Linked DNA regions of Homo sapiens. The protein of the gene in region 1 interacts with the protein of each later gene in a biochemical or structural test. Each region holds a gene or a part of one and is shown in the gene's direction. Other genes may lie near its edges.

Region 1 (3,788 bases):
AAGATTAGTTTTCCAGGCTGGGCGCGGTGGCTTACACCTCTGCACTCCAGCCTGGGCAACAGAGCAAGACTCTGTCTCAAAAAAAAAAAAAAAAGATTAGTTTTCCAGACATTTTGATCTATACGTGGACCAGCATCTTTTTTTTTTTTTTTTTTTGAGACAAGGTCTCGCTCTGTCACCCAGGCTGGAGTGCAGTGGCGCGATCTCGGCTCACTGCAACTTCCGCCTCCCAGGTTCAAGTGATTCTCCTGCCTCACCCTCCTGAGTAGCTGGGATTACAGGTGCCCACCACCACGCCTGGCTAATTTTCGTACTTTTAGTAGAGACAGGGTTTCGCCATGTTGGCCAGTTTGGTCTTGCACTCCTGACCTCAAGTGATCCACCCACCTTGGTCTCCCAAAGTGCTGAGATTACAGGTGTGAGCCATTGCACCTGGCCTTTTTTCCAATAGTCTTGAATGGATGTCAAATTAGAGAATTGCAAGCCACTGAGGCTGACTTTGCATGGGCTATTCGGCCATTGGAGAAGAGTACAAAGCTGGATTTCCATTTTGCTCAGGGCCCTAGAGCTCGTGTGTGTGCTTTCTCTTCAACTCCTGTCCTTTTTGTCTTCTTCACAGATGGCAGAAGATTTTCAAGTCCCGGCTGGTGGAGTTGTTAGTGTCCTATGGCAACACCTTCTTTGTGGTTCTCATTGTCATCCTTGTGCTGTTGGTCATCGGTGAGTGAGCTATGGCTGAGGGCAGCTACCTGACCTAGACCCTGGTCTCTGCTGCAAAACCCTTTGCCACTTTTGATGTGTAGCATCCAGTTTTGGCTGCTAGGAGACAGACCAATGAAATGCTGTGTCTTTCTCTTGAGGGAGGGAAGAGGCTCCCTTTGCCCATGCTGCTGACCGCTAGTCGGTTCTTCACTTTGAGGCCCCTCTAGGCCGTACATGGTGGCTCATGCCTGTAATCCCAGCACTTTGGGAGGCTGAGGTCGGTGGATCACCTGAGATGAGGAGTTCGAGATCAGCCTGGCCAACGTGGTGAAACCCCATCTCTACGAAAAATACAAAATTAGCTGGGCGTGGTGGCGGGCACCTGTAATCCCAGCTACTTGGGAGACTGAGGCAGGAGAATTGCTTGAACCCACGAGGCAGAGGTTGCAGTGAGCCTAAATCGCACCATTGCACTCCAGCCTGGGCAACAAGAGGGAGACTCCATCTCAAAAAAAAAAAAAAGAGGCCCCTCTAGCAGTGGGCGTGGGCTTATACCAAGCAGTTTGTATGCAGCTTATGACGGCCACCTTACATTGCTTTTTTTCAAGACCTTGGAAGGAGGGACGCCTAAGGTTTCTGAGGCTGCTCCTCAGGTCACTCTAGAACTGAAGCCAAGAGAAGCTAACTGGCCTGTGACCTTGGTCTGAGTAGTGCTGCTCACCAGTCACTTAAACAGCAGAATTGCCTGGAGCAGGGCCTCTAATGGGGGACTGAGCAACCAAGCACACAGTGAAGTCCTGCCATTCCCTGTAGTAGTAGGAGGAGAACACAGAGATGTGTGGCAGCATATCTTGGGGAGAGATCCTAGACCTCTCTGCATCTGGGCTAGACTTGAGGTTTTCCCAGGTCGTTCCAGCTCTGTAGTTCTGTAAACTCTGACATTGAGGTGTACACTAGCAGGTGCTTGAAAGATAAACTGGTCCAAGGGCAAGCAGGCTCTGGGATAAGGCCAGGCCAGGTGGTGGTAAGATGAAAGGCAGACATTTTGCAATGAGGTGGTAGGGTGACCATCTGGAGACAAGAATCAATAAAGCTCTTGTCTGACTGGTAGATGTTTGTTGTTTTGCTGTGGTAAGTGATCGATATGTCCCCCTGTTTGGGCTCCAAAGTATTGGCTTGGCTCTGCTGTGGACACCACTCTTGTCTCAGAGCTGTGGTGCCTGCCTAGGCGTGGAACACTCCTCCCACCGAGTCCCAGCAGAAACACTGAGCGGGTGGGGGGCTGTGGTTCAGGGGAATGTGCAAAGCCTCACCCACCAGCTTCAGCATTAGGCATTTCTCCTTCCTGATGTCTCAGAGCCTGATAGGATATGTTCAGGCTGGACTGCCTCTGAACAGGCCAAGTGTTACCTGACAGCTTCCAACCACATAGGGTAGGTGCCAGCTGCCTGAGCACCTCAGTGTTCTTGAAATACTTGGCAAGGCCCCAAGAGGTAGTAGCTCTTTCTAACCAGGGTTCTCGCCCTGAGCAGCCTCCAAGCCAGGAGTAGGTAGGTAATATATGTGTCATCCCCAGGCCACTGAGTTTTTGAACTGAGCATGTGTGTTTTGGCTTTTGGGTCTGGGGTGGGGGTAATAACTGGGGAGGGGAGGGACCATGCTGAGGATGATTCCCTCAGGGTCTTGCCCCTTCCCCAAACCAGAAGGAGTATGTTTCTTTCCTAGAGCAGCTGAGTGGGCTGGAGAGATCCTTTGCGGAATCCAGTAGTTGACAAAGCCTTCATTCTTTTTTGGGATCGGGGAACTGCTTGGAAGTTCTAGGGGGACATATGGCCATGATGACTGGCTGCTTCCTACTCCCATGTTAAGAAGCATAATCTAGAAAGATCTGCAGAGCCTTCTTCAAACAGAAGTGTTAGTCACAGGTACTAGTGAAGGGTAAGGGGCATAACTAGCTAGAGCTGTGGCCTTGCTTGGGGGTGGGGAGGGTTGAGCAGATCCTCCTGGAGGATGGAGTTGCTGAGGGTGCAGGATCTTCCCACCTGGGCTGAGGCCCGAGACAGGGAGGGCTGGTTTCTACTGTGGGACTTGGGTTAGTATTGCTCAGTCCCCCATCCCCACTATTGGTCATTGGCCAAGGTGGTCCTTAGGATGGTGGGGTTCCTGGATGCAGGTGACAGTGTAAGGAAACATGTTTATCTTGTTTTTCTGATTACAAAAATAATGGGTAATTATTCTTAAAAATTCAAAAGTTGAATTTAGAAAGTTAAACTCCCCATAATCCCATTTCCCACAGGTAACCATCATGAGTATTTTGTTGTGCATTTCCAGAGGGGTTTTGTATGCTGACATCTTTAATAAAATGTCTACAACGGTGGGATCATACACACAAAGTATTTATGTTTCTTTCCACATTCCTGCTGGGACATGGCAGGAGGAGCATTCCACGCCTGAGCTGGTAGCACAGCTCTGAGATAAGACTGCTGTCCATAGCAGAGCCTAGCCAATACTTTGGATTGTGCTTTTTCTACCTGCTGCACGTTAGACATCTTTTTTTTTTTTTTTTTTTTTTGAGATGGAATCTCACTTTGTTGCCCAGACTGCAGTGCAGTGGCGCCATCTTGGCTCACTGCAACCTCCGCCTCCCAGGTTCAAGCGATTTCCCCTGCCTCAGCTTCCGAGTAGCTGCAGGTTACAGGCGCCCGCCACCATGCCCGGCTAATTTTTTGTATTTTTAGTAGAGACGAGGTTTCACCGTGTTGGCCAGGCTGGTCTTGAACTCCTGGCCTCAAGTGATCCGCCCACCTCGGCCTCCCAAAGTGCTGAAATTACAGGCATGAGCCACTGTGTCCGGCCAACATCTTTTTATAGCAATCTCATTCTTCTTAAAGATCATGTAGTATTCTCTCATGTGGTTGTGCCGTAATCCATTCTTTATAAGCATCTTCGAATCATTGCAAATTTATGCAAATACTTCTGTGGGATAATTTCAGAGGTGAATTGTTGAACCCGAGGGTATGAACATTTTGCATTTTATACAGGTGTGCTGTTTTTACCCCTGCTAACAGCGTTTGAGAGTACTCGCT
Region 2 (3,788 bases), on another chromosome or scaffold:
CTTTATTAGACATTATTAAACCAATTCAGGGAATCTGAACATACTTTGAGGTTCCTTCCAGCCCAGAGTTTTCTGTTACAGTGATTCTCCCTTTCCTTTTTTCTTCCTAACCCTAAAGTTGTCATGAGAGAAGAGATCCCCAGAGGTCCCCATGGAGACAAAATTATAAACTCATGAAAAATAGAAAATATCAAAGTCATTCGATAGCTGTGTTTGATTTCCCATTGGCATGGTCTGATTTTCTTTTTACTTTCTTCTTACTGCCGATGAGACTCTGCAGTCTGCAGGAACAAAATGGCGGCACCCATTGATTTAGTTTAGTTCAAATGTGCACATAGAGGCATTACCTCTCTCTAGAGTGTAAGCTCTTTGGGGACAGGGTGGCTTTTCTCCCTTAGAATTCCCTTCGATTGTATAACGTCTGCATGCATAGTCAGCTCAAAGACTGTGGAATGTAGCTGAATTTCGAATTTGCTTATAGCCAGCCAAGCCATATTAAATTTCCCCAGTATATAGAGAGCTGAGAACACACACTGAGCTCGGGGCCTGAACCTCTTATTGCAGGCATTGGTCTGAGGGGCAGAGCTCATGAGAGTTCTTCTGGGCCAGGGTCTAAGGAGGCCCTCACTTAACCGGGGGCCTGTTGCATGGTTCTAGGTCATGGCTGCTGCCTGGGAGCCCATGTCTCCCCACTACTAGACATCATCTCCCAGCATTTTTGTCTGTCAAATTATGGAGTCTGGATTTTTTTCAGATTAAGTAAGCACTTAGAATGTAACATTATTCTATGTAGTATATATTGAAATATATTTCATAAATAGTAATATACATGTTTGTATTGAATTAGAAAAGACAGCTAAGGAAAAAAATCAGAATAGCCTCTTAAATGCCATGTCCTCATGCCTACTTCTGCCTTCAACGATAATCACTGTTAACATCTTTGCGTTTTCCTTTATATTATTTTTTTCTGTTTGTAAACGCGCACATGTATATGTTAGGTTTTTACAGAAGTGGAATCGTGTTTTGCTGACCGTTTTGTCCTGCTTTACTCAATATGACCTTAGGAACACAATTTCTTGCCAATAACTATAGGGTATGACTTTTAATGCTGAACAGCACTCCATCATGTGGACGCGCTGTCAGTCATCTATTTTCAGACATTTGTTTCCAGGTTTATGCTATTATACATAATCTGTGCACTTTATTATTTTTCCAAAATAAATAACTGGAAGTGAAATTACTAACAAAAGCTTTTTAAAAGCCTTTTGATATGCATTACCAAATTCAAAAGGTCTCCATGTTTACCTTTACCTGGGCATAAGGGTTATTTTGGGACCCCCGCCCATATCCCCAACCGCATGCCATTCTTTTCAGCACTTAGAATTAACCTTCTCTTCCATTCTTGACAATCTGACCTTTTTTAAAAAAAATTCTCATTTTAGGTTTACGTGAAATTTCTCGAAGTGGACCAGGGGTGGTGGCTCATGCCTGTAATCCCAGCACTTTGGGAGGCCAAGGTGGGAGGATCACTTGAGGCCAGGAGTTTGAATCCAGCCTGGCCAACATGAAACCCTTTCTCTACTAAAAATACAAAAATTAGCCGGGCGTAGTAGAGGGTACCTGTAGTCCCAGTTACACGGGAGGCTGAGGCAGAAGAATTGCTTGAACCTGGGAGCCACTGCACTCCAGCCTGAGTGACAGTGGCTCCATCTCAAAAAAAAAAAAAAAAAAAAATTCTTGAAGGTTCTGAACGGAAAAGGAAAATGTTGGAGGATGGCTGCCTCCCAGGTGGGAGTGCTCCATGGCCCGGAGGGGTGAGGACACCTTTGCTGAGTTTAGGAGTCTTGACCCTGGTCTGTTCCCGTCCACACCTACCTGGCCTGGTTCCAAACCTGCAGCAAGGCTGCGGCTGGGAGTTTAGCCATCCTGTCCCCTTGGGCCAGCCCTGGGTGGAACTCAGATCCTCTGTGGCCTCTGAATTGGAAATTTATGGGGAAGCCACTGTGGACAGAGCCACCAGAGCTGAGGCCCTGCCCATCTCCTCCTCATAGGAGGAGCCGGTGCCAGCCTTTCCGTGTGAACCTGTGATCCGTGAAGTCGGGTAAGCCCTTGCCAGTCCTGACATGAGCAAGGGACACAGAGCTTCCTAAATATATAGACTGGGATTTTGTCCGAATCACATGACGACCCAGGTTTTCTTTTTCCCTCTTTGTTGCTTTTAATACATAAAATGAGCATGTGTTTATTTAAAACAGCTTTCAAACTCAAACAAATAATGACAGACTGTTCAAACAGACTTCGGAAATCGCCCCAATCAGGATGTTTGAAAAATCAGGAAGACTTTCTACGAAAGAAGCTTTCAGGTCATTTTAGTCCCGAAGCCGCAGGGTCTCCTTTGCACTTTGGAATTGTAGAAGGGCAAAGTTTAGAGGCCAGCTCCAACCTCCAGGGGGTTAAATGACTTGCCCTCTAGCCCTACACTCTAATAATGTGTAAAGAAGGACAGATAGGTAGGCATTGTATTATCACTTCCCATCTTTGACCAGAACACGGGATGTATACATTTTAATTCATAATTCCTATAGAAATTACGGACTATCCTCAGATCAGAAAGCTAAGAGAGGAAATTGCTTCTGCAAAACGGCAGGCTCAGCAGAACTTCTTGGGGGAAGGGCAGGTTGAGTAGGTGCGGAGCAGGTCTGCAAGAGGACAGACAAGAGCAAGGTGTTTGTTCTGCCACGAGCTCACTTTCTGTATCCAATTTACAAATGGCTTTGAGTGACCTACGTTAATCTTCACAATAATGAATTTTATGGCTATGGATGAAGTAAATGAGGCTCGGGGCTGGGTTATCTGCTGAAGGTTATAAACTAATAAAATATCAAAGCCAGGGTTCACCCACACTCCTCCTCCAAGTCCCATGCCCTTCTCAGCCCCCTGGGATGGCAACAGCATCTCTATGCTGAGGCTTTGGGCCAAGAGCTGCTAGTTTAGCTCATCTCACTCTAGAAATGACATTGTTCTACGTAATGCATATCAGAAATGGCCTGTTAGGTTCATGAGAAGCACTGTTATTTGTGTGGGGGTGAGGGTGGTGAGAGGGAATTATTCCAGCTCTGAGGAGGTGGGGATATTTGGGACAGCATTTCTTCTGCTCTCCAGCACTGTGTGCCAGACCAACTGGGAGAAAATGCCAGCTGGAGTATGTCCCTGCATCCTCCGGTTTCCCAGGATGGCTTCAGGTCCAGACAGGACAAATGATCAGGGGCTTAGTCTGGTTCAGATTTTGCCACACAAAACTCTGTTGATTACTAAAGGGATTCAGAGCCCGGCCACTGACCTTCTCAATGTCAAGCCAAATTGCAGACAACCTATTGCCAGTGCCCTGACAAATTTGGGGTGTCTTTTGGCTGGGCTATTGGGGGTTTCAGCCTACCCATCCCTCAGAGAGAGAAGCATGGATGGGAGGACTAGTTGACATTTGCAGCCGTGTCTGTGATGTCTTGGGTTGCTCCCTGGAAGAGGCAGAGTTCTGGCTTGTGGAGAAGTCCTGACTCCTTCCTGCCCCACTGATCCCTGCTTATATGGAGAGGGGTGTGCATCTTGGCAGACAATCATGATTGTGCCTTAGCTCTGTGCTAAGAGCACTAAACACACATTTTATGTACGTCTATTGCCTCGCTTTTCTAACACTGAAATTTAGAAATGTTTAACAATAGATATTTAAAAAGAAGAAGAAAGCCCTTGCGCCCTCTCCTGGTAAAAGTTAACCAAGGACCTCCAAAGAT
Region 3 (3,788 bases), on another chromosome or scaffold:
CACTGTGCCTGGCTATGGCCACTTTTGAGCTGTAATGGCAGAATTCAGGAGCTGTGATAGAGATTGTATGGACCCTGAAGCCTAAAACATTTACCTTTACAGAAACAGTAATTGTGGAGGTGATAGTACCTTTCCAGAAGAAGGGGGCTGGTCTCTGCTCTTTGCTTTATCTCCCATAATACAGCCCAGTGATTTGAGTCCATTAATCCCATGTTATGCTTGCATTGCATGCCATAATTGGGAGATGCTATAATTTATTTTATTTTATTTTTTTAGAGACTCCCTCTGTCGCCCAGGCTGGAGTGCAGTGGCATGATCTTGGCTCACTGCGACTTCTGCCTCCTGGGTTCAATCGATTCTCCTGCCTCAGCCTCCTGAGTAGCTTGGATTGCAGGTGCCTGCCACCACGCCTGGCTAATTTTTGTATTTTTGTAGAGACAGGGTTTCACCATGTTGGCCAGGTTGGTCTTGAACTCCTGAGCTCAGGTGATCCACCTGCCTCGGCCTCCCAAAGTGCTGGGATTACAGGCTTGAGCCACCGTGCCTGGCTTGTAATCTCCTTTTACATTACATTAGATCTCTTGTTAATGAACATTTAGATTGTTCCCAAACTTTTGCTCTATGAACAATGCTGTCATTTTGCACATGTGCAAGCCTATTTGGAAGTAAAGGCTAGGACTGGGATTGTGGTATCCACGGGTGCATGAGCACGTGCAATTTTAATAGATTTTTCCAGATCCCCCTCTACAGTGGTGGCAGCAATTTACACTCACACCAGAAATTCATGAAAATACCTACTTCCTCATACTCCCTCACTCATTTGCCAACTCAGTGTGCTATCAAACTTACTGATCTCTGCAGATCGAGTAGGTGAGAAGTGGTATCTTAATTTAGCTTTAAATTGCTTCTTTTTTTTTTATGAGAGAGGCATTTTCTGTGAACATGTTTTTCTTATCTGTTGGCCATTTTTCTTTCTTTTTTTTTTTTTTTACTAGTTTGTACAAGCTTTGAGTACACTGAGGAAAGTAGTCTGGGGTATGAGTTGTGAAGCTCTCTCCCTTGTGTATTATTTTTCTTTTGAGTATGCTTATGGTAGTTTATCACATACAAAAATTTATTTATTTATTTATTTATTTATTTATTTATTTATTTATTTATTTATTGAGATGGAGTCTCGCTTTGTCGTCCAGGCTGGAGTGCAGTGGAGTGATCTCGGCTCACTGCAACCTCTGCCTCCTGGGTTCAAGCGATTCTCCTGCCTCAGCCTCCCGAGTAGCTGGGACTACAGGTGCGTGCCACCACGCCTGGCTAATTTTTTTGTATTTTTAGTAGAGATGGGGTTTCACCATGTTAGCCAGGATGTTCTCGATTTCCTGACCTCGTGATCCACTTGCCTCGGCCTCCCAAAGTGCAGGGATTACAGGTGTGAGCCACTGCGCCTGGCCCAGAAATTTATTGAAAATGACTGTGTGGAGGCTGGGTGCAGGGGCTCACGCCTGTAATCCCAGCATTTTGGGAGGCCGAGCTGGGCTGGTCGCTGGAAGCCAGGAGTTCGAGACTACCCTGGCCAACATAAGGAAACCTCATCTCTACTAAAAATACACAAATTAGCCAAGCATGGTGGCACACACCTGTAATCCCAGCTACTCAGGAGGTTGAGACAGGAGGAATGCTTGAACCTGGGAGGCAGAGGTTGCAGCAGTGAGCCGAGATTGCACCACTATACTCCAGCCTGGGTGATGGAGTGAGAATCTGTTTCAAAGAAAGAAAATAAATAAAAATAAAAATAAATAAAATGACTGTGTGGGCCGGGTCCAGTGGCTCATGCCTGTAATTCTAACACTTTGGGAGACTGAGGTGGAAGGATTGTTTGAGCCCAGGAGGCAGAGGTTGCAGTGAGCTATGATTATGCCACTGGACTCCATCTTGGGCAACAGGGTGAGACCCTGTCTCAAAGAAAAAAAAAAAATGGTTGGCCTGGGACTACAGGTGTGTACCACCATACCTGGCTAATTTTTAAAAACATTTTTTGTAGAGATGGGGTCTGGCTATGTTACCCGGGCTAGTTTCAAACTCCTGGCCTCAAATGATGCTCCTGCCTCAACCTCCCAAGGTGCTGGGATTAAAGGCATGAGCCATGGTGCCCAGCTTGAATTGACCTATTTTTATTTTTAAAATTTATTCATTTATTTTTTGGGACAGAGTCTTGCCCTGTCTCTCAGGCTGGAGTGCAGTGGTGCTATCTCGGCTCACTGCAACCTCTGCCTCCTGGGTTCAAGCAATTCTCTTGCCTCAGCCTCCCATTTAGCTGGGATTACAGGTACGCACCACCACGTGTGGCTAATTTTTTGTATTTTTAGTAGAGGCGGGGTTTCACCATGTTGCCCAGGCTGATCTTGAACTCCTGAGCTCAGGCAATCCACCCCCTTGGCCTCCCAAAGTGCTAGGATTACAAGCATGAGCCACCGCGCCTGGTCCTATTTTTAAATGACTTCTGGTTTTTGTGTCATTCTTAGGAAGACCTTTTCTCATTCTGAGTCTTAACATTTTCCCATTTTTTTCTTTGCTAATTCTTCCTCCTAGTCATAGGAATTTAGGAATCCGGGTATGGGCCCCCACCGTCCTCTGGGTGGCAGAACTTCCTCTGTGGTCTCCTTCTCTCCCCACATGTCGAAGTTTTCTCTGTTCCCACTTCTCCCCACAGGGTGGTGGTTGGAGCCCCCCAGGAGATAGTGGCTGCCAACCAAAGGGGCAGCCTCTACCAGTGCGACTACAGCACAGGCTCATGCGAGCCCATCCGCCTGCAGGGTGAGTCACTGCCCCGCCGGGCTGGGACTGGGATTCCCCTGTGAACACATAGGGACTTTCCAGGCACTCCTGTGTCCTGGGGATCTGTGGTGGGGACACAGGTGCCTGCCTCCGTACCCTCTCCTCTGCCTGCAGTCTCTACCCTAGACATCCCCAGGCAACCCCTCTGTGTTCCTTTCTTTCCCAAGATTTAGGATCCCCCTTCACCGTCAGACCTCCTTGTCTCCCGCATGGAGGTGACCCCTGCCCAGCTCTTCCACAGCCTTCTCTGTCCCCCCACCAGGGTGACCATGCCCATATCTGTCCCCGCAGTCCCCGTGGAGGCCGTGAACATGTCCCTGGGCCTGTCCCTGGCAGCCACCACCAGCCCCCCTCAGCTGCTGGTGAGTGGGGCTCGATCAGAGGAGCATCCTAATGGGGGTGTTTGGGGGCCCACGCATGGTGGGGCTGGGGGTCTTGTGGAGGGTGGAGGTGCTGGGGTACAAGGACAGGAAGCAGGGGCAGCCCCTTCCACTGGCTCCTGTCCCCTAGGCCTGTGGTCCCACCGTGCACCAGACTTGCAGTGAGAACACGTATGTGAAAGGGCTCTGCTTCCTGTTTGGATCCAACCTACGGCAGCAGCCCCAGAAGTTCCCAGAGGCCCTCCGAGGTGGGTTGCCTTTGGCAGAGGGAACAGATGCGCAGCAAAAGACCAGGGGAGGGGGCAGGACTGAGGTGACGTCTGCTCAAGGTCTGGGCTCTGGGTGCAGAAGAGTGGGGGAACTGGGTCCCATTAGAGTCAGAAGCTAGGGAGGTGCTAGGGTCTTGTACTTTAGGAAAACGCCTTGGCTAGGCACAGTGGCTCATACCTGCAATCCCAAAGCTTTGGGAGCCCAGGAGCTTGAGATCAGCCTGGGCAATGTAGTGAGATCCTGTCTCTAAAAAAAAAAAAAAAAAAAATTAGCTGAGTGTGGTGATGAGCACCTGTAGTCTTAGCTATT

What was found.
Region 2: the proteins of BCAP31 (region 1) and BCL2 form a complex in vitro, tested with the Homo sapiens proteins (one study listed by BioGRID).
Region 3: the proteins of BCAP31 (region 1) and ITGAM form a complex in vitro, tested with the Homo sapiens proteins (one study listed by BioGRID).

What each region holds. Positions count from the first base shown.
Region 1 is NC_000023.11:153,717,804-153,721,591, reverse strand, and holds part of BCAP31 (B-cell receptor-associated protein 31), read left to right. Parts: intron 1-619; coding exon 620-720; intron 721-3,788. UniProt on the Homo sapiens protein: Functions as a chaperone protein. Is one of the most abundant endoplasmic reticulum (ER) proteins.
Region 2 is NC_000018.10:63,131,266-63,135,053, reverse strand, and holds part of BCL2 (apoptosis regulator Bcl-2), read left to right. Parts: intron 1-3,788. UniProt on the Homo sapiens protein: Suppresses apoptosis in a variety of cell systems including factor-dependent lymphohematopoietic and neural cells. Regulates cell death by controlling the mitochondrial membrane permeability. Appears to function in a feedback loop system with caspases.
Region 3 is NC_000016.10:31,262,691-31,266,478, forward strand, and holds part of ITGAM (integrin alpha-M isoform 2 precursor), read left to right. Parts: intron 1-2,704; coding exon 2,705-2,808; intron 2,809-3,091; coding exon of another isoform or gene 3,092-3,120; coding exon 3,121-3,191; intron 3,192-3,339; coding exon 3,340-3,457; intron 3,458-3,788.